Homo sapiens: one gene and its partner. The protein of the gene in region 1 purifies or fractionates together with the protein of each later gene. This does not show direct contact. Each region holds a gene or a part of one and is shown on either strand. Other genes may lie near its edges. The genes, in order: DECR2 and SESTD1.

Region 1 (10,590 bases):
GGAGTTTCAGAACTTAGTAGCCGGCTGAGGACGGCTTCCCCCTAAAACACCTCGGCTGCCTCGGCCACCCAGCACCTGCCAGAAATGCCGGCAGAGGCCGAGGCCGCTACAGAAGAGCAAGTACACCAGCGCCCGCCTCCTGCTCAGCCCCACTGGGCAGCACCCATGTGTGGGCAGGCTGGCGCAGGGGCCGGGAGGATGGGGACAAAGGAGACGCCAGCCCCGTGGGTCCCGCAGAGACCTGCCCATGCAGTGACCAGCGTCCAAGGACACAGATGACCCCAAGAAGCGGGAGCAGTACCTCACCTAGAGCTTAGCAGAGAAGGATGCGAAATCCGGCAGCCCTTTGACACCGTTTGGGAACGTCAACCATGCCCCGCCATCGGCCACCAGCACGGCCCCCGTCACGTAGGAAGCCAGAGGGCTGGCCAGGTAGAGCACGCTGTGGGCGATCTCGGTCTTGTTCCCCAGCCTCTGCAGCGGGCTGGCAGTGACCTTGGTGCTCAGGCTGGCCTGAGGGCCACCTGGAGGGCAGCAGAAGGCTCAGGCCCCGTGAGCCCCAAGACCCAGCACCCTCCCCTCTCCCCCAGCTCATTCCCTGAGAGGCATCTGGGAACAGCAAGGACACAGTCAGTGTCACCAAGGCCTAGCATGGAGCAGGATCAGGCCAGGCACAGAACATAGTTGCCACCATGGAACCAGCACAGGGCTTTTCAACATACACCCTGCCAAGGTTCTGGAAGCTTCATGGGCACCCTGTGCCCCAGGAGAGGATCTGTGGGAGGCCTGGGCTCCCTGAGAGCCTTACCCAGTCGCCGGAGCCCCTCTGTGCCACTGATGGGGCCAGGGGCGAGGCTGTTGACGCGGATGTTTTGGGGACCCCACTCCACAGCCAAGTGCCGCGTCATCGCGTCTGCACAGAAGAAAGTTGGATATGAAAGGGCCGCTCTGCCCTCTGCGAGGGCGCAGGGCCAAGGCCAGGTCTCGCTGCCTGCAGCTGGGCTCAGCTTCAAGTGGAGACTGCTGGCCTCCTGGGATGGAAGCAGACGGCCCATTGGGGACCCACGTGGGCAAACCTGGGCGGGGGGGGGTGGTCATACCCACAGCGGCCTTGGCGGAGCCTGCATGCACCTGGAGCGCCTGCCCCCGGTTCCCCAGGGTGGCAGTGATGTTCACGATCACCCCTCCGTGGTCCTGCAACACACAAGGCCCGGGGCAGTGAGCGGGCGGGTGTCGGGGGAGGTCACAGGACAGTGAGCGGGTGGCTGTCAGGGGGAGGCCCGGGGCAGGGAGCGGGCGGCCGTCAGGGGGAGGCCCAGGGCAGGGAGCGGGCGGCCGTCATGGGGAGGCCCAGGGCAGGGAGCGGGCGGCCGTCAGGGGGAGGCCCCCGCTGGGAGTACACCCACCCGGAAGAACTTCTCACAGAGCGCACAAGGCACCCACCCGGAAGAACTTCTCACAGAGCGCACGAGGCACCCACCCGGAAGAACTTCTCACAGAGCGCACGAGGCACCCACCCGGAAGAACTTCTCATAGAGCACACGAGACACATTGAAGGTGCCGCTGGTATCGATGTCCATCACGGTCTTGAAGGCGTTGAAGGACAAGGCGCCAGCGGGGCACAGGAAGTTCCCGGCCGCACCTGCAGAATGGGAGACCGCAGGAGCTGCTGGAGCCTGGGGAGAGGGATGCCAAGTGGGTGGTGGCCAGGTGGGCAGAGCGGAGGGTGCAGGAGGGAGCCCAGGTGCCCTGTGGCACAGGGAGGAGACCCATGCCCTAGGATAAATTCCAAAATGACCAGAGCAAGACGGGCGTCCTGGCTGCACTGTGTCCCCGAGAAGAGAAGACATGCTGAAGCCCTGGCTCCGTACCTGCGACTGTGGCCTTGTTTGGAAATGGGGTGGGTTGCAGAGATAATCGAATTACACTGAAGTCACAACGAATTAGGGTGAGCCCTAAATCCAATGACCAGCATCCTTATAACAAGGGAAGAGGACACACAGACACACGCCACGGGAAGACAGTGGCAGACAGTGCAGCGACGGTCTCCGAGCCCGGGAGGGCCAAGGGCTATGGCAGTACCCGAAGCCACGCAGAAGGCAGGAAGAGGCTCTCCCCTGGGGCCTTCAGAGAGCATAGCTCTGCCGACGCCTTCCCCTTGGACGTTCTGGCCTCCAGAACTGGGAGATTATATTTCGGTTGTTTTACCCACACAGGTCGTAGTACTCTGTTAGCCCAGGAAACTAATACACAGGATGTTTTTAAAAGGGAATTTCTGCAGAGTGAAACCAGTGTTGGTTCATCAATTGTAACAAACGCAAGATGTTAACAGGGAAAACTGTAGGTGGGAGTATGGAATTCCATATACTATTAATTATTCTATAAACCTAAAACTGTGATTTAAAAAAAAAAATCGGCCAGGCGTGGTGGCTCACGCCTGTAATCCCAGCACTTTGGGAGGCTGAGGCGGGCGGATCACGAGGTCAGGAGATCGAGACCATCCTGGCTAACATGGTGAAACCCCATCTCTAGTAAAAATACAAAAAGTTAGCCAGGCGTGGTGGCAGGCACCTGTAGTCCCAGCTACTGGGGGACTGAGGCAGGAGAATGGCATGAACCCGGGAGGCGGAGCTTGCAGTGAGCCAAGATTGCGCCACTGCACTCCAGCCTGGGCGACACAGCAAGACTCTCTCAAAAAATAAAAATAAAAATCAATAAAAATAAAAAATAAAGAAATAAAAATAAAAGCTGGGGGCCAGGCGCGGCGGCTCACGCCTGTAATCCCAGCACTTTCGGAAGCCAAGGCGGGCGGATCACCTGAGATCAAGAGTTCGAGACCAGTCTAAACAATATGATGAAACCCCATCTCTATTAAAAATACAAAAATTAGCCAGGTGTGGTAGCGGGCGCCTGTAATCCCAGCTACTTGGGAGGCTGAGACGGGAGAATTGCTTGAACCCGGGAGGCGGAGGGTGCTGTAAGCTGAGATTGTACCATGGTACTCCAGCCTGGGCAACAAGAGCGAAACTCCCTCTAAAAAAAAAAAAAAAGCTAGGCCAGGCTAGCTTCTATTTTATTGATGACTCTTGCTTGTAATCCCAGCATTTTGGGAGGCCAAGGCAGGAAGATTGCTTGAGCCTAGGAGTTTGAGACTGGCCTGAGCAACACACACTAAGACCCTGTCTCTACAAAAAATAAAAAATATAAAAATTAGCCAGGCGTGATGGCACACGTCTGTAGTCCCAGCTCCTCAGGAGGCTGGGGCAGGAGGATGGCTTGAGCCCAGAAGGTGGAGGCTGCAGTAAGCCATGATCACACCAGCCTGGGTGACAGAGTGAGATGCTGTCTAAAAAAAAAAAAAAGGCTATTACTTTTTTTTTTAAAGACGGAATTTCAGGACACAAGGGCACCCGACTCTACCATTGAGCTGTGTTCATGGCGTCCACTTGGGCTGCAGCTGTGCTGACCTGCTGCCACCCAGAGAAGCGGAGTCAGGCCGGAGACAGAGGGCCAGAGACAGAAGGCGGGACACAAAGGCCTGGAGACAGAGGGCCAGAGACAGAGGGCCAGAGACAGAAGCCCGGAGACAGGGGGCCGGAGATGGGGCCGGAGACAGAGGCCCAGAGACAGGGGGCCGGAGACAGAGGCCCGGAGACAGAGGCCCGGAGACAGGGGGCCGGAGACAGGGGGCCGGAGACAGAGGCCCGGAGACAGAGGCCCGGAGACAGGGGGCCGGAGACAGAGGCCCGGAGACAGGGGCCCGGAGACAGAGGTCCGGAGACAGGGGGCTGGAGACAGGGGCCCGGAGACAGGGGCCCGGAGACAGAGGGCCGGAGACAGAGGCCCGGAGACAGGGGCCCGGAGACAGGGGGCCGGAGACAGAGGCCCGGAGACAGGGGCCCGGAGACAGGGGGCCGGAGACAGAGGCCTGGAGACAGGGGCCCGGAGACAGGGGGCCGGAGATGGGGCCGGAGACAGAGGCCCGGAGACAGGGGGCCGGAGATGGGGCCGGAGAGAGACGCCCGGAGACAGAGGCCCAGAGACAGGGGGCCGGAGATGCGGCCGAAGACAGAGGCCCGGAGACAGAGCCCGGAGACAGAGGCCCGGAGACAGGGGCCCGGAGACAGGGGGCCGGAGATGGGGCCGGAGACAGGGGGCCGGAGCCTGAGTCTTGGCCTCAGGTACCTGGATGGGGTGCAGCCCACCCCAGCACAGGCAGCTAGGTTCCCTGGCATGGTCCCCACCCCATGACCAGAGTTCTAGGGCCTCCAAATGGTACCACCAACCTGTGAGAAGCCACCAACCTCACTCAGCACCGACTCACAGTTAATGAGAATGTCGATTCTGCCAAACTCCTTCAGAGCCTGGTCCACGGCGGCCATGACAGCTGGGGGCGCTCGGACGTCCATAGAGAGAGGGAGGCAGCGCCGGCCGGTGGCCCCAGCCAGCTTCCTGGCGGCCTAGAAGCCAGGTAAAGAGGCAGACAGCAGCCCTGCAGCCTCGGCCTGGAGAAAAGGCCTTTGGAATCTGCAGAGGACGATGCTTCCGGGTTCCTCGGGGACCCTGGGTTTGCTGCTGGACCCCACTCTGGGGAAGCACAGCCTGCAAGTGCCCACGACCCCAGTGGATGTTTGTGGGAACCTGCCACGCTCTCCCCCCACCTGCCACCTGTCCTAGAATCCTCCCTCTGCGTCGCCCTCCAGGCCACTGTCACCCATGTCCTGCCCCTGCTGCAGACCAGAGGTGGCACAGGTGAGACTCTCCTCCCAGGTCGAGGGCTCCAGTAGGTGGGACGCACGGACCACCTAAATAACCCAGGTGAGCCCAGAGGTCTTTCTTGGGGCCACATTACCCCCAAACAGGAAGGTCCCTCCCAGAACCCAATAACTAGATTTTTTAAAAAGTCAAAGATGTCTCTGGGAGGCCACTTACACTGAAGCTCCATATTTAGGATAGGTGCAAGTTTTGGTGCCGGCTGGGCACAGTGGTTCACACCTGTAATCCTGGCACTTTGGGAGGCTGAGGTGCCGGCCGGGCACAGTGATTCACACCTGTAATCCTGGCACTTTGGGAGGCTGAGGTGCCGGCCGGGCACAGTGGTTCACACCTGTAATCCTGGCACTTTGGGAGGCTGAGGTGGGCGGATCACCTGAGGTCAGGAATTCGAGACCAGCCTGGTCAACGTGGTGAAAACCCATCTCTACCAAAAAAATGCAAAAATTAGCCAGGCGTGGTGGCGGGCACCTGTAGTCCCAGCTACTCCGGAGGCTGAGGCAGGAGAATCGCTTGATCCTGGGAGGTGGAGGCTGCAGTGAGCCGAGATCGCACCACCACACTTCAGCCTGGGTGACAGAGCGAGACTCCCGTCTCAGAAAAAAAAAGTTTTGGTGCCAACATCCCCATAGCCTCTGGACTCTCCTGGCCCAGGCCCAGCCCCAGCCCCCCCACAGCCACCCGAACAGGGGACCATGGGAGAGGCCCTCTCACCGTCAGCACTCGCGGCAGGCTCCTACTGGCAATCACCGTATGGCAGCCGTGCCTGCAAAACCAGAAGCAGGTGTGAGGGCAGTGTGGGCGAGGGGCACTCCCGGGGCATCTGCCCAGCTCCTGAGCAGGAGTCTCTCAGGCGGAAGTACCAGTCCAGGCTGAAGGCCCAGCTGGCAGAGGGCACAGGGGCGTGAACAGGACTGAGGTACTCTGGAGGGACCTCAGGTGGTGCCCACCCCGGGGTTTCTGGCATGGGACATCCCACCGCACAGGCCTGCGGGTCCTGCCCCAAACACCAGGTACAGAGACAGCTGTGAGCCACAGACGCCCAGCCCACACATCTGCCTGGGGCCTGCTGGGCCCACATTCTCCACCCCCTTCTCCCTGTGGGGCTGGCGTGGAGGACTGTTCTGAAGCGGGGTGCTCCCTGCTCCCCTTCCTGACCACGTGGATGCGAATCCACCACGTTGGCCTCTATGAACCCTGGTTCCAGGAATGCCGCTAGGATTTCCAGCTTATCTACTGTTCTTGCGAAAGAGCACAAAGAAGTCCTGCCTTTAGGTCAAAACCACCTTGATGTTATCCTAAACAAATTCCTACACACTCCCTCTGAAGCAGGACCCCTTTCCCTGTGGTATAGAAGCCCTGGGCCTGGGGGTAACAGCATGGAGACGCCCGTCTCACAGCCACCCAAGACTACGCTTCTGCCCACAAATTCCCTGGTAAAATCACCTGACACAGACAAACGGGATCTGTCTGCCTTGTTCTTTGGTTTCTCGGCTCTTCTGGTTCGGGGGTTGCTTGCCCACAATAACCATAAAGGTAGCTACCCCTGCTAGGCAGGTCCCACTGGAGCTGCAATGTCCCATCTGGTCCTCAGATGCCCTGAGCACAAAGCCACCAGTGGAAAGGCCATATCTCTTCCTGTGGGACTCACCTTTTTGGTCTGAAAAGCAGGGGCCTCAGGGGAACTGAGGAAGGGTCCCTTTCCCCCACCCCAGCCTAACTCTAGCCACTGTCAGGTGGGATAAGTTGCTGACCCTGGCCTGAAGCCACAGAATTGTGTCCCAGGAGAAAATGTGCTCTGCAGGGCGCCAGCACTGGGGCCCGACACAGCCCTGACTCTCGAGGTCCCAGCAGGCCCCAGACCAGAGCCACACAATCTCCACTGACCTGTAGGGGCCTTGAAGTCCTGACTCCCCCCAGGGCAATCCTCGACCGCTCCCCAGTCCCTCTGGCAGGCACCTGGATCCTGTCGGGTAGGTGAGCAGGGGACATCTACCTCCCACCAACATCTTTCCAGGGGTCGGGCATCCAGCAGGGCCCGGGCAGGGAGAAGCGAGGAGCAGGGAAGGGACACAGAGCAGTCTCACCGCATGAAAATCTCAGCAATCCGGAACCCAATCCCAGAGCCGCCTCCTGTGATGAAGGCCACTTTGTCCCTGAGAATAAAAAAGGAGGCTCTTTTAAAAGAGCCCTATTGGGCCGGGCCGGTGGCTCCCAGCACTTTGGAAGGCCAAGGTGGGTGGGCCACAAGGTCAGGAGATCGAGACCAGCTTGGACAATATGGTAAAACCTCGTCTCTACTAAAAATACAAAAATCAGCTGGGCGTGGTGGTGGGTGCCTGTAGTCCTAGCTACTTGGGAGGCTGAGGCAGGAGAATAGCTTGAACCCGGGAGGCAGATGTTGCAGTGAGCCGAGATCGCACCACTGCACTCCAGCCTGGGCAAAAGAGCAAGACTCCGTCTCAAAAAATATGTATAAATAAAATAAAATAAAAATAAATAAAAAATAAAAGAGCCCTGTTAAAATACACCTCCCATATTGCTATACGGCAATGATTTAAAATGAAAATTCGGCCAGGTGCCTTGGCTCACACCTCTAATCACAGCACTTTAGGAGGCCAAGGCGGGCGGATCACCTGAGGTCGGGAGTTCGAGACCAGCCTGACCAACATGGAGAAACCCCGTCTCTACTAAAAATATAAAAAATTAGCCGGGTGTGGTGGTGCATGCCTGTAATCCCAGCTACTTGGGAGGCTGAGGCAGGAGAATCACTTGAACCCAGGAGGCGGAGGTTGTGGTGAGCCAAAATTGCGCCATTGCACTCCAGCCTGGGCAACAAGAGCGAAACATGGTCTTAAAAAATAAATAAATAAATAAAATGAAAATTCATAAAATTATAGTATTTTATTTAATTTATTTATTTATTTTTTATTTTTTTTGAGATGGAGTCTCGCTCTGTCGCCCAGGCTGGAGTGCAGTGGCATGATCTAGGCTCACTGCAAACTCCTCCTCCCAGGTTCACACCATTCTCCTGCCTCAGCCTCCAGAGTAGCTGGGACTACAGGCACCTGCCACCACGCCCAGCTAATTTTTTGTATTTTTAGTAGAGATGAGGTTTCACCGTGTTAGCCAGGATGGTCTCGATCTCCTGACCTTGTGATCCACCCACCTCGGCCTCCCAAAGTGCTGGGATTACAGGCATGAGCCACCACACCGGGCCTATTTATTTATTTTGAGACAGGTTCTTGCTACGTCATCCAGGTTGGAGTGCAGTGGCACCATCACGGCTCACTGCCGCCTTGACCTCTTGGGCTAGAAGGATCCTCCTGCTTCAGCCTCCCCAGTAGCTGGGACTACAGGTGCATGCCAGAGTGCCCAGCTAATTTTTCATCTAGTTTTTCTAGAGAGGGGTATCGTTTTGTTGCTCAGGCTGGTCCTGAACTTGTGCTGACACAAACTTGCAAAGTGCAGTGGGGGAAAGGGTATTTCTGTGTCTTTTGACAGAAATGGACAGAAGTAGATACAAGAGAGAAAAATACCCTGGCTTAAACAAGATAGAGGTTATAATTTCCTCTCTCCTAAGCCCTGCATGGCACTAATATCAAATATGATACCTGAGATTCAGCAAGCTACGTCGGGATAATATGGCTTTTTTATTTATTAGAGATTTTCTTGTACGCATTAAATGTGTACTGATCGGTATGACTGGCACAAACTGTACCAGATGGATGGCAAACTTTTGCTGATCTCCAAGTTGCCTTTCCTATTCTTAATTATTAAAGATTAATTTTGGGCCAGGTGCAGCGTCTCACTCCTGTCATCCCAGCACTTTGGGAGGCCGAGGCAGGTGGATCATCTGAGGTCAGGAGTTCCAGACCAGCCTGACCAACATGGTGACACTCACCTCTACTAGAAATACAATTAGCCCAGCGTGGTATTGTGTGCCTATAGTCCCACTTGGGCGCACTGAGGCTGAAGCAGGAGAATTGGGAGGCTGAGGCAGGAGAATTGCTTCAACCCAGAATGAGACTCCGTTTCGAAAAAAAACTTTTTTTTTTTCCTGCAGAACACTCAGAGAGAATTGTCAATACCTGTCCTTGGAGAACATAATTTAAAACTTGTTTTCTTTTTTTGAGATGGAGTTTCACTCTTGTTGCCCAGTGCAATGGTGCGATCTCGGCTCACTGCAACCTCCACCTCCCGAGTTCAAGTGATTCTCCTGCCTCAGCCTCCCAAGTAGTTGGGATTACAGGTGTGCGCCACCACACCCGGCTAATTTTTTGTATTTTTAGCAGAGACGGGGTTTCACCATGTTGGCCAGGCTGGTCTCGAACTCCTGACCTCTGGTGATCTACCCGCTTCGGCCTCCCAAAGAGCTGGGATTACAGGCGTGAGCCACTGCTCCTGGCAAAAGATCAAAATTTTAATAGAAACTTGAAAATGTTGCCAATTGAAAAAAAGAAAAGGAAAAAAAAAAAAGGATCCGCCCATTAGCCGAGTGAGGGCAGGTGACCGGGGAGGATCGACCTTTGCCCGGGCTGCCTTCTCTTGTGAACACCAAGGCGTTTGCAGGAAAATGAAGAGCTGCTGGGCAAAACCTGGCATTCCTGGGCCTTCTGGGTCTTCCGGAAAAATGATTTCAACCTAAAATTTTCTGTTAAGAAAGAGGCCAGGTTGGGCCGGGCGCGGTGGCTCACGCCTGTAAATCCCAGCACTTTGGGAAGCCGAGGCGGGTGGATCACCTGAGGTCAGGAGTTCGAAAAGAGCCTGACCAACACGGTGACACCCCCTCTCTACTAAAAATAAAAATTAGCCGGGCTGAGGCAGGAGAATCGCTTGAACCCGGGAGGCAGAGTTTGCAGTGAGCGGAGATCGTGCCACTGCACTCCAGCCTGGGCGACACAGCGAGATTCCGTCTCAAAAAAAAAAAAAGAAAGAAAAAAGAAAGAAAGGAGCCAGGCAAGACAGGTTTCCTAACACGCGAGCCCTCGGGGACCACGTGGGGGCGCCGGCGCCCGCGGACCGGACCCCGCACCAAGGCTGCGCTCGCTTCCCAGGCCCCGCTCACCGCAGCAGGTCCGGGCAGAAGAGGTGGCGGTACGCGGGGAGACAGTCGTCCCCCTCCACGTCGGGCGGCGGCTGGGCCATGGCGCTCCCGTCGGGGACTGCGGGGACAACGGGCGGGAGCGGCCTCGGCCTCCAGGACCCGGCGCGCAGCTGCGAACTCGCCTGGAACCGGGAGCCCCGCCCCACTCCCCGGACGCCCCGCCCCTGCCCTGATTGCTTCCCGGAGGCCCCGCCCCTCCCCCGAATTCTCCCCGGAGGCCCCGCCCCCGCCCGCGGCCTGCTGGGACTGGAAGTCGGCGCGCGAGGCGCAGGCGCATTGCGGGGCCGGGGGCGCGGTTCCCGCGGCAGAAGCTCGGCGGTCTGCGGGTCTCCTCCCCGAGTCTTTTTCACAGGTATTCGGCGTCAGCGCCGCGTTCAGAGCCTCCAGGACTTGTGGGATACCCCTGGCTCCTGGGTCCAGGCCAGGCTCGCAGCCTCTGGGCTCCCCGTTCGCCTCCCCGTAAACACCATGGGGAGGGCCGGGGCCCAGGGAAGCGCGGCCAGCCCCGCGCCGCTTCCCAAAATGACCCGTTTTGAGGCCAATAAAGAAGGGTCCGGGGCCGGGCGCGGTGGCTCACGCCTGTAATCCCAACACTTTGGGAGGCCGAGGCGGGCGGATCACGAGGTCAGGAGTTCGAGACCATCCTGGACAACATGGCGAAACCCCCTCTTTACTAAAAATACAAAAATTAGCCGGGCATTGTGGCGGGT
Region 2 (10,245 bases), on another chromosome or scaffold:
TGTGGAAAAATGTATCATATTATATCACCACCTCACACAAGGCACCAAAATTTTTTCTGAATGTAGGAGTCTAGAGTAAAAAAAAACTGCACAGGAGAAATAAAATTTAAGCTGAGGAAAGATTTTCTAGTCATTAAGGCAATATAAAAATATCAAGGTCTGTAAATAAATTTCACCATAAATATGAGCATAACATCACCAAACTTCATAAAGATAGAATAAATAACAAACTAGGAAAAATACTTGTTCAAATATGATGGATTATTAGCCTTATTTAAAAAAAAACTCTTCAAACAAATAAGAAAAAAAGCTAACTCCAAAGGAAAAGTATGCAAAAATAGTAACAGACAAGTCACCAGAAGGGAAACACAATGGATAATAATAAATCATTAAATTTGTTTCAGCCTCACTGGTGGTTAAAGAAATGTACAGTGAACTGGTTTTCTCAAAGATTTGTAAAGACTTTAAAAAGAACACCACTTCATGCTGGAAATAGTGCCATGAGACAGGCACCCTGTTTTTTTTTTTGTGTGTGTGAGCTTCTTATTATTATTATACTTTAAGTTTTAGGGTACATGAGCACAATGTGCCGGTTAGTTACATATGTATACATGTGCCATGCTGGTGTGCTGCACTCATTAACTTGTCATTTAGCATTAGGTATATCTCCTAATGCTATCCCTCCCACCTCCCCCCACCCCACAACAGTCCCCAGAGTGTGATGTTCCCCTTCCTGTGTCCATGTGTTCTCATTGTTCAATTCCCATCTATGAGTGAGAACATGCGGTGTTTGGTTTTTTGTCCTTGCGATAGTTTACTGAGAATGATGATTTCCAATTTCATCCATGTCCCTACAAAGGACATGAACTCATCATTTTTTATGGCTGCATAGTATTCCATGGTGTATATGTGCCACATTTTCTTAATCCAGTCTATCAGGCACCCTAACTGTTAACAGACACATACATCTACCTAACCTTCTGGAAAGCAATTTGGCCATATCTATTAAAAGCCTCAAAATATGCATACATTCCAATCCAATATTTCTACTTTCAGGAATCAATCCCAAGGAGAGATGCTGTCAAAAAGTTAAGAGCAAGGATGTTCATTGCAGCATTACTTATAGTACCGTTAAGAAAGAAAGAGAAAGAAACTAAATGTTTCACCTAATAGTTTAATAGTTAAATCATGGTATTTACATATTATTGACTATTACACAGCTATTGACTTAAACTGGAAAAAAGTTTAATAATTTTTTTATGATATAATAGCTGTAAAAAGCAGGAAATAAAGTTGAATGCTAGCATACTCGTTAGGTTAAATACAAAGGAAATGTATCAAATATTAACTATGTTCTCAGCACTGATAAATAATGGGCAGTTTTCACTTTTTATATTTTTCTCTATTTACTAGAGTACTTTAAAAATAATAACTACACATTATTCTTAAACAGAAATTTAAATAATAAAGCATAAAGGAATTAGTTATTTCCAGTTGAAAACAACCTTCCCTTAGTGATGAGATGCTGGAAAATGACAGTTCAGGCTTCACTCTGTTTTGAATTTGCTAAAATTTACCATAGATTGGATGTGCTAATCTTTCAGAACGTGTTAATTTCATAAACATGTTTGGTTTCTCTAGTCCCTATAAGTATATAATTCCCAAAATGCCATCTCTGTATTCTTCTATTCAAATTAGAGAAATTAGGTAATTTGCAGGATGATCAGACATTGTCTCTGAAAAGTTTATATATTGAAGTTTTTATAAAAGGTATTCTAGAATCTTGCAGTCAGAAGTGTGGTCTGCAGACTGGCAGCAGCAGCAGCAGCTAGAAACTTGTTGAAAATGCAAAACTTTTGGTCCTACCCCAGATTTACTGAATCAGAATCTGCATTTTAGTAACACTTCCAGTTGATTTGTAGGCACACTCATATTTGATAACCACTGGTATAGAACACATATTCTAGTTCTAACTACATGGCTACAATGCAACTATAGTCCTCCTTCAAAACTTAATCTATGTTCATGTCCTAAGTACCATCTTTATGGTCTATGAGTTCTAAACATTTTCTTAGAACAAGAGTGGCTTCCAACTAATGAGTGGGATATATCCTAAAAATATATTGGTAGGTCAGTTGTTAACTTATACAGTAATATAATTAATGCTAGATTTCTAGGTCATCTTACAGTAGCTTGCATAACCCATAATATAGTTGAAGAAGAGGACTAATTGCATTTTAATCATTTTTTTATGGGAAAATATGTTCCCAGTTCTAACAGAAGATTCTAGGAAAGCCTGATACTGCCATCAATACAGGACTCCCAGATGGATGCAACTATTAGTATTTGTGTATGTGTAGACAATTAGTAGAGCTGATTTTCCGATTCTGAAAATTTTCTAAACAAAAGAATAAAATGTATTAAAAAGACAGGAATGTCAAGTGTTGATATTGACTCATTCACATTTTCTCCCAATTTTATTTTGAACAAACACAATGGTAAGATCACTTCAATGGTTTGAAACAGGTTTGTGGATACAATGAAGCATCTAATGGAAAACCTAGAGATGGATGGATACTCTAACATGTAAAGTAAACATGTCCATTAATAACAAATGTACAATGTCTTCTATATATTTTTTTGCTTGTATGTTGAACTGTCACTCAAATGTACTTAACTTCATTGGACAAGGTATAAGGCTTGCCAATTTCCAAAGTCTGGCAGTCCAAAATCCTTAGTAGCCATTCTGGAACTGCTATTGTTTATAGCATGATATGATTGTGTTATTTTAAATACAGCTTTGTTGTAATATGCCTCCTCCATCCCTAAATACACATTCACCTTTGATGCCTTAAAAATGGACTTCTCAGTAGGAACAATGGAAATTTCACCACTGTCTATTATGGTGAGAACCTATTTCTGACAACATGAGACGTAGAGAAAGCACTGAACTTCTGTGCCAAGCCTGTGGGAAGGGATTGTTGGGGTCACGGGAGAGGGAAGCAGAAGCCTCTGTCTTCTAAGACTCCAGGTTATTTCAGAATATACAAGTTACATTTTTGATTTAATGAAAGGTTTTAGGTAACACTGTTAGAAACAATTTAAACCTTTACAAAAAATAACTCAAATTGATTCAAAGATGCAGAATTCATCAGATTATCTTATAGAGACCAGTGTGACTTAATTCTCCCTAGATTTTATGAACAACTTTTATTAACAGAAATCAAACTTATTGTCCAAAGTGACAATATATCAAAGAAATACATACCAAAACCTGCTGCCATTATAGTTGTTAACATTTTTATTGCATATTTACAATGTGTGGAACATTATAAGGATTTACAGTAGAAGCCAAATTTCCCAGCCCTTAAAATTTTAATAGGAAAAATCGAATAAACCATACATATTTTTGAAAATGAGCATTAGAAACACACAGATGATTATAATTCTATAGACTAATACAGGTGAATGCTGTATGTAATAGAACAGCTGGGAGAGGTAAAAGAGTGGATAAGAGAGTCATCAGAGTGTGAAAAAACTACAGCTGGGTGGTATTGAATAAAGAGACAATATTGAAAATATTTTTAAACGCTAAAATGTCCCGTAAAAGCATAGCTATCCCCTATGCAAAACTGTGAGGTAGAATTTTTCCCACCCCGTTTTCTGCTCTTCTGGCCACCATTTGGGGGACTTCCCTGTCCAGGTGACTCTCTCTCACATAGCTGTACCTGGGGCTTACTAGCAATACATGCTTTCCACTACCCCCTCAACCTCATCACAGAAATAACCTTTTCTGTTCAATGATCAGTCTTACTTTACCTACTGAAAACGGGTGGTGAAAGTTAGTAACATAAACAAACCAGTGCTGTTTCTTCTAGCTAACATATCACCATGGTTGGGCTTTAACCTTTCAAGGAGTGAAATATTGCTAAAGTTTCAGGCATAGGAACCCCTTGAGGAGCTGTCTGGGGCAGACAGGTCTTTGCTTTCCTCAGATAGTTCCAATTGTCATCCTTGACCATGAACAATGCCATTGTTATTCCAAACTCACTTCTTCTAATACTTCAATATGGATCATAAAAATAGTTTACACCTTTATGCACATCAAAATACAAAATACAGGGCACAATAAAACTGAACTGGAAAAAGGTATGGCAGTTTCTTTTAAAACTACCCTGTGACCCAGCAATTCTAATCCAAGGAATTTACTGCAAAGAAATGAAAACCTATGTTCACAAAGACTTACGTAAGAATGGTCATAGCAGCTTTATTTATAATGGCCAATCCTGGAAACAGCCCAGGTATCTATCAATAATAGGAAATTAAGAAAACAAACTGTAATATTGTCATACAGTGGAATACTACTCAGCAATAAAAAAGAACAGCAATAAAAAAATGAAGCCTTGTAGAAAAGCGTACATGTTGCGTGACTCTATTTATATAAAGTTTTAGAACAGAAAAATCTTATGGTAGAAAAAGGAACAGTGGTTGCCTTTGAGGGTCAAGTAGGGACAGGAATTGACTGGAAAGGGCAGTGTGGAAACTTTCTAGGGTGGTGATAACGTTTCCTATTTCCATAGCACTATATGCATTTGCCAAACCTCAGTGAACACATATTTCTATGCACTTCATTGCATGCTAATTTTATGTAAAAAAGCCAACAATGAACTCTAGTTAATGATATGCAATTTAAAATGCATCAAATAATAATATGAAATGATGAATGGATATGTGACAAAGCAAGCATAGGTAATGCTAATTAGCATCTAGGTAGTGAGTACACTATAAAATTATTTTAACTTTTTAATGTATTTGATAATTTTCATAACAAGATGTTGGGTAAAAATACAGGGTGCAATGTTTACCAAATAGTTTTGCTGAGAATTTCATTACTGATTTTATGACAGTAAGATCATCAAATTCTTCTAAGTGTCCATTGAGAAGTAAGTTTCTCTTAAAGGCTTCTGAGACTATTCGTAAGTGTGATGTGAGCAATCAGTTCTCAAATCTACTCTGGTTTATAACTGTCAAAGTGGTATTTCGATCCTTTCACCTTTACAAAATACAATACATATATTTTGATGATATATTCTGAGCAAATCTGTTGGCCATAAAGATAACATAAGAGTTAAGATGAGAAAACATTCCTAAGAGAAAAATCAAACATACAAATTTTATTTACCCTAACTTCCAGACTAAAAAAGAATCTGTAACTGTAATAGAAAAGAAGTGAGGCTTGGTCATAAATAGTGAGTGGTCTACTGTGTTCTGAGTGGAAAGGCACCCAGTCATCTCTCATCTCTCCCCCAAGACAGAAGCATTTGGACACCCTAAAGACATGGTATTCAGCTTGTGAAGACTTCTAAGGTGCCTCCTGGAGATTCACTGGGAACTGGCTGGAGTTCAATAGCCCTTTTGTCAGAAAGTTTTCTACATGCCTAACTTAAAATCCCTAATAACACTGCTCCTGATAAGTAGCAGTTGATAACTACTTTCAGTTAAGAATTCCTATAAAATTACATATAGGAATTATACATACAGCCTCATAAAGTTCTCCAAAAAAAATCTTTAAAAATGTGCCCACTGCTTTCAAAATATTTCATCATAGTTCTGGCTGTCTTTTGATCTCTAAGTTCTTCATGTTCTAGTACAGGTTCTGCTTTTTCTTGAAGTAGAGGGACTAGTGTTTATTCTCAAGCTTTCATGTTTGCTTTAAAATTCTGCAGTAATGTTGAGTCATATTAAGTGTCATACCCATGAACTTTTTTCAGTCTTAAAGACTCCCCTGTATTTATGCCAGCTCACGGAGTGTCCTTAGTTCTATGCCTCTATTACAGTATCAGTCGGCCATTTTCTGTTCATCATCACTGCCTGAGTTTACCAAGAGACTGCTCCTCTCTAAGCATAGCCAGCACTAATTGTGGTCTTTTCATGCTTTGTTCTGTTTTTTTTTTTTTTTTAACCTCATTATTGGGATACTTAAATAACAGATTTATGCTGTTGTTGTTTCTACTGGTCGGTGCTCGCTCACTAATATCCAATCCTAGTATGATTTTCTTTTACTTGTGTCTATTAACAGGGTTATGTCACACCTTGTCAACCTCAAAACAGATGATACTCATCACTTGTCTTCCATCTTGCTGTTCTATTATCTTCCTACAAAAATAGCTAATTTGTCAGATTTCAAAGCCTTGTTATTTACTGATGAGCTTACCAACTGGACCTTTTGTATCTTCAGTGTGTAATTCTGAAGATGCATTCTGATACACTAGTGAACTGGGGGTGACGGTGAAGGGGTGGTGGAACTAAGGGGGTGGGGCGGCGAACATAGGCAATATGCCATTTCCTCACCATCCCATGCTTGTCATGTGAGACAACAGAAAGGATAAAGAATACTCTATTTTTTATTCTGAAAAGATAATTATAGCAATGATACCTTCCATTCTGTTTATTTCTGGATATTTTGGCTTCAACAATTCTTTATATCATATTTTATTCTTGAAATTGGTATGACTTCTCTGTTTTACAGCCTGAGATAAATTCTCAGATATTTTTTTAACAGTAAATGGCAAAGCCAGATTTTTGAAGCCAAGTATTCAAGCTCCAAACACTTTCCATTATATTCATTACAGTTCTTGTTTTAGCTGGTATGTTCTTTCCTCTACAAGTACTGCCATTATTTATGCTTCTTAGCTAAACCTAGACTTTTCAGTAGCATGTATGAAAGTCAAATAATGTCAAATGGTAAGTTTCTACTTCATTTTATCTCATCAGGGTATTTGTTGCTCTATATACCAGCATAGTATATTTTCTACTCCCAACTGAAGCTTTTCATTTTTAGGACTGAACGTTAACAATAAGTCTACTAATTAGGTTAACTGCTTAGCTATGTTCCAGCCATGTTTTTAATGCTAGAGAATTTTTCCTTTGGGGGCTTAAGCAAAGATATCCTAATCATACAGATCTCACTACTGATGATAATATACTTAATGGTGCTTGTTTCTGCCTGTACCATTCCCTATAGGCTGAAGATGTAAAGGACATTAGCAACCACAGTATGTTTAGTTTTTAGTAGCAACAGTATTTTACTACGGCCTTGTGTACTTTGGGTAGGATGTGAGAAGGGGAGTAGTACATAATAATGCCCAATCTCTATTAGCAAGTAACTTACAATGTAGTAGAGAATTCTGAACTATTTCTTCAAATGTAGACCATAGATTCAGCTAACTTCATAATCACATCATTGGTAACAATGGGTTTAGATCAGAGTATGGTTTACTCATCACTGTTAGTAAGGTAACTTAATTGTCATGCTCACGCTAAGGAGTACGACACTAATAATACCACTCCGTATGTCAGCTAATAAGATAACGAAATAACAAACATGTTAAGACTAGCTAACACATGGGAGCAATAGCCAATGTAAATTTGTATAAAGTGAGAAGTATTCAATCTTCTACCTAACAATGAAGCCTAGACCTGCCATCAATATCCCAGCTGGCAGGCTGAGCAGTTTCATCAACATCACCAATGAGTCACCAGAACTGAACAAAGTGACCAACAATGAGGACTGGGAACAAAGCCAATTTGACCTAAAATGAAGTCATCATTTTTGCATAACTCTGCTGGGTTAGACATGTGCGAAGAACAGATGCCAAACTGCCATTATATATTAAGCTTACACAGGAGCAAACAAATGATAAAAGAAAAAAAAAATCCTCAAACAAACAAAAAAACCCAAAAAAACCAAAACAAAATGAAACTAACCCTGCCAGCGTTTCAATAATTCCCTGAGATGGGCTAAAGGAATGTGGGAGGTTGTGACATATATACCAATTACAAATGAGTGGTTCTTTCAGAGACTTGCAAGCTGATGTTAATTTATGACATAGAAACAGCTTGTGGTTTCAAACACACTGCAGTCACTTTTTTCACACGTTTACCTTAAGTGAGCTTTGACCCTATGGAAGAAAGTTGCTTTAGGGCATTACTGGATTTTCATTCATAACTCTATGTACAGATACACATATGAAAGCAGCAGCAAATTTACAGATGAGGAGCAATGATATTCATTATGTTAAAATCATACTTGGCCTCATGTGAAACACTCAATTTACAAGTAACATTTATGAATCCTGCCTTATTTTACTTTTTGTAGGCAAGATAGCTTAAGGTATATAAAAATTAACTCATTTGGCAATTATAACTCCATGAGTTGATGGCAGAATTACTAACAAACCAGTTCCTTTCTAGCAAAGTCTTAAGAAAAACATTCTAACTACTCTGAAATTCAGAAGAAACAGATATTGAGTATTGATATTTAGTTATTGAGTATAACTAAATATCTAAAGTAGTTAGTATCTAAGAATCTAAGAATAGATTCACTTGTAAGTCAGTTCTAACTTTAAAAAAGTATGTTTAAAACATACTTCAGACTGCAATGTAACAGGGATTATTACTAATGCCTATAATACAGCATTCATATTTAGGAGGAATGGGCATCTGTTATGCATGAGCAAGACTGGGAATAGGAGAAGACAAGATTCCTTCCCTCAAAAGAGCTTACTGGGTACAGACATAAACAACTGTAGAATGTGATAGCACCATCATGAAGACTGAAATAAATAATCACAAAAGTTCATACTCATAGCAGTAAAGCCCCAAAGGACTGAGAAGATGATTCAAGTATAGAAAGAACTTCCTGGATGTTCTCAGAAGCAGTGACCACATAAGACAAGAGGGAGCAGTTGAACTTTGCCCTGAACTTCCTGGCATGTTTGACTAGGAAAAAAGGCTGCACCATTAACCTAAATTGTTCCAGGAGGAAAAGGTGATAAATATTGTCAATCTTTAATCAAGGTTGAAATGTCAACTAGGCAATTAAAAAGAAGTACAAGTCTAGATTTCTGGACCAGGTATGTAATCCAGAACATTGGTATAAAATAAAAACTCTAAGGATGAGATACCGAGAAAAGAGCCAAAAGCATTCTGAGGACAGGATCTGAGAGAGCACATGTTCAGCAGGCACATCTTAAATTAGGGTTATGCGACTGTACTCACAGTTATTTCAGAGGATAGCATCTTCAAGGAAGGAGACACTGTCTAGGAAAGGTTGCTCAATGGTGTAAATGTTGCAGAGAAAAGGGTAAGGGATTCAGACGGAGAAAAAAACCATTCAGTTTGGTAACTGGGAGGCCATTGCTGACTTTCAAAAGAACAGTTTCAGTAGAGTGCTGTGTAAAACCAGACTGCAAGGTGCTGAGTAGTGAGTGATGAGGATGTAGGGGCACTGGATGTGGATTTCTCCAAGAAGTCTGTCAGTCAGTGAAGAAGGCTGGAAAAACTAGCAGGTTAAAAGGGAGGGGTTTTTTTTTTGCATTGGAAGATACACGAGCATGTTTGTAGACCTCAAAAAGGAACCAGTATACAACTCGTTTATAATTTTGTAATGACTACAAGACTAAAAAATAATTTTTAATATTTTAAAAAATGTTCTGAAATAAAAATACATAAAATTTAAATTATATGCATTTTACCATTTAAACTTAATACAAACTTAAAAGAACTAGCATTTCATGATAAATTTTATTTCTAAAGGGGTCATACAGTTCTGTTATTGGACTACTTCAGAATTTATTTTGCTTTTAGACTATAATGAGAAACTAAATTTTATTAACAATTGCTATTTTAGTTCCTGAAAGATTACTCTGATATAAAGGATTACACTGAAGTAATTATGTATGCCTTCTTCCTCAGCCCTCCTCCCCTAAAGACAAAGTATCTTCAGGGTAGTTAATAATTTTGAGAATATTTTTCAAGTTGAAAAAGAGAAAAATTAGAAATAGTATTCCATTATTAATAAGTTCTTAAAGATCTAAATTGTTCACAATAATTTTTCATGATAAAACATGCTTATTTATTATATACACATGCTTACATATGTATTTCCTGTCTAAAATACATGCAACCACCATGAAAAAACAAATATTAAACCATCCTCACAGTCCTAAGAATGCCCTTTTAAATAAGGCACTCATGTTTGGAAATAGGATGTAACTACTAAATTAAATAAGATGTTTAAAGAAGTCTTTTATTAAGCACAAACAACTTTTAATACATTATCAATACAAATAGGAAAAGGTCTTTTAATGACTATGATATATCAAAGATCTGAAAGGCTTTCTCTGTATTGACACAATAAAAATAATCAATTCTGAAGAATTACAAAGTAAAATTTTGAGGACA

Evidence for each region.
Region 2: the proteins of DECR2 (region 1) and SESTD1 purify together in Homo sapiens (affinity purification with mass spectrometry; 2 studies listed by BioGRID and IntAct, with this or other methods). This does not show direct contact.

The regions. Positions count from the first base shown.
Region 1 is NC_000016.10:401,295-411,884, reverse strand, and holds the start of DECR2 (peroxisomal 2,4-dienoyl-CoA reductase [(3E)-enoyl-CoA-producing]), read right to left. Parts: upstream 10,001-10,590; 5' UTR 9,922-10,000; coding exon 9,842-9,921; intron 6,930-9,841; coding exon 6,861-6,929; intron 5,540-6,860; coding exon 5,488-5,539; intron 4,461-5,487; coding exon 4,325-4,460; intron 1,643-4,324; coding exon 1,518-1,642; intron 1,195-1,517; coding exon 1,101-1,194; intron 914-1,100; coding exon 809-913; intron 525-808; coding exon 307-524; intron 1-306.
Region 2 is NC_000002.12:179,099,234-179,109,478, forward strand, and holds the end of SESTD1 (SEC14 domain and spectrin repeat-containing protein 1), read right to left. Parts: 3' UTR 2,445-10,245; downstream 1-2,444. UniProt on the Homo sapiens protein: May act as the primary docking protein directing membrane turnover and assembly of the transient receptor potential channels TRPC4 and TRPC5.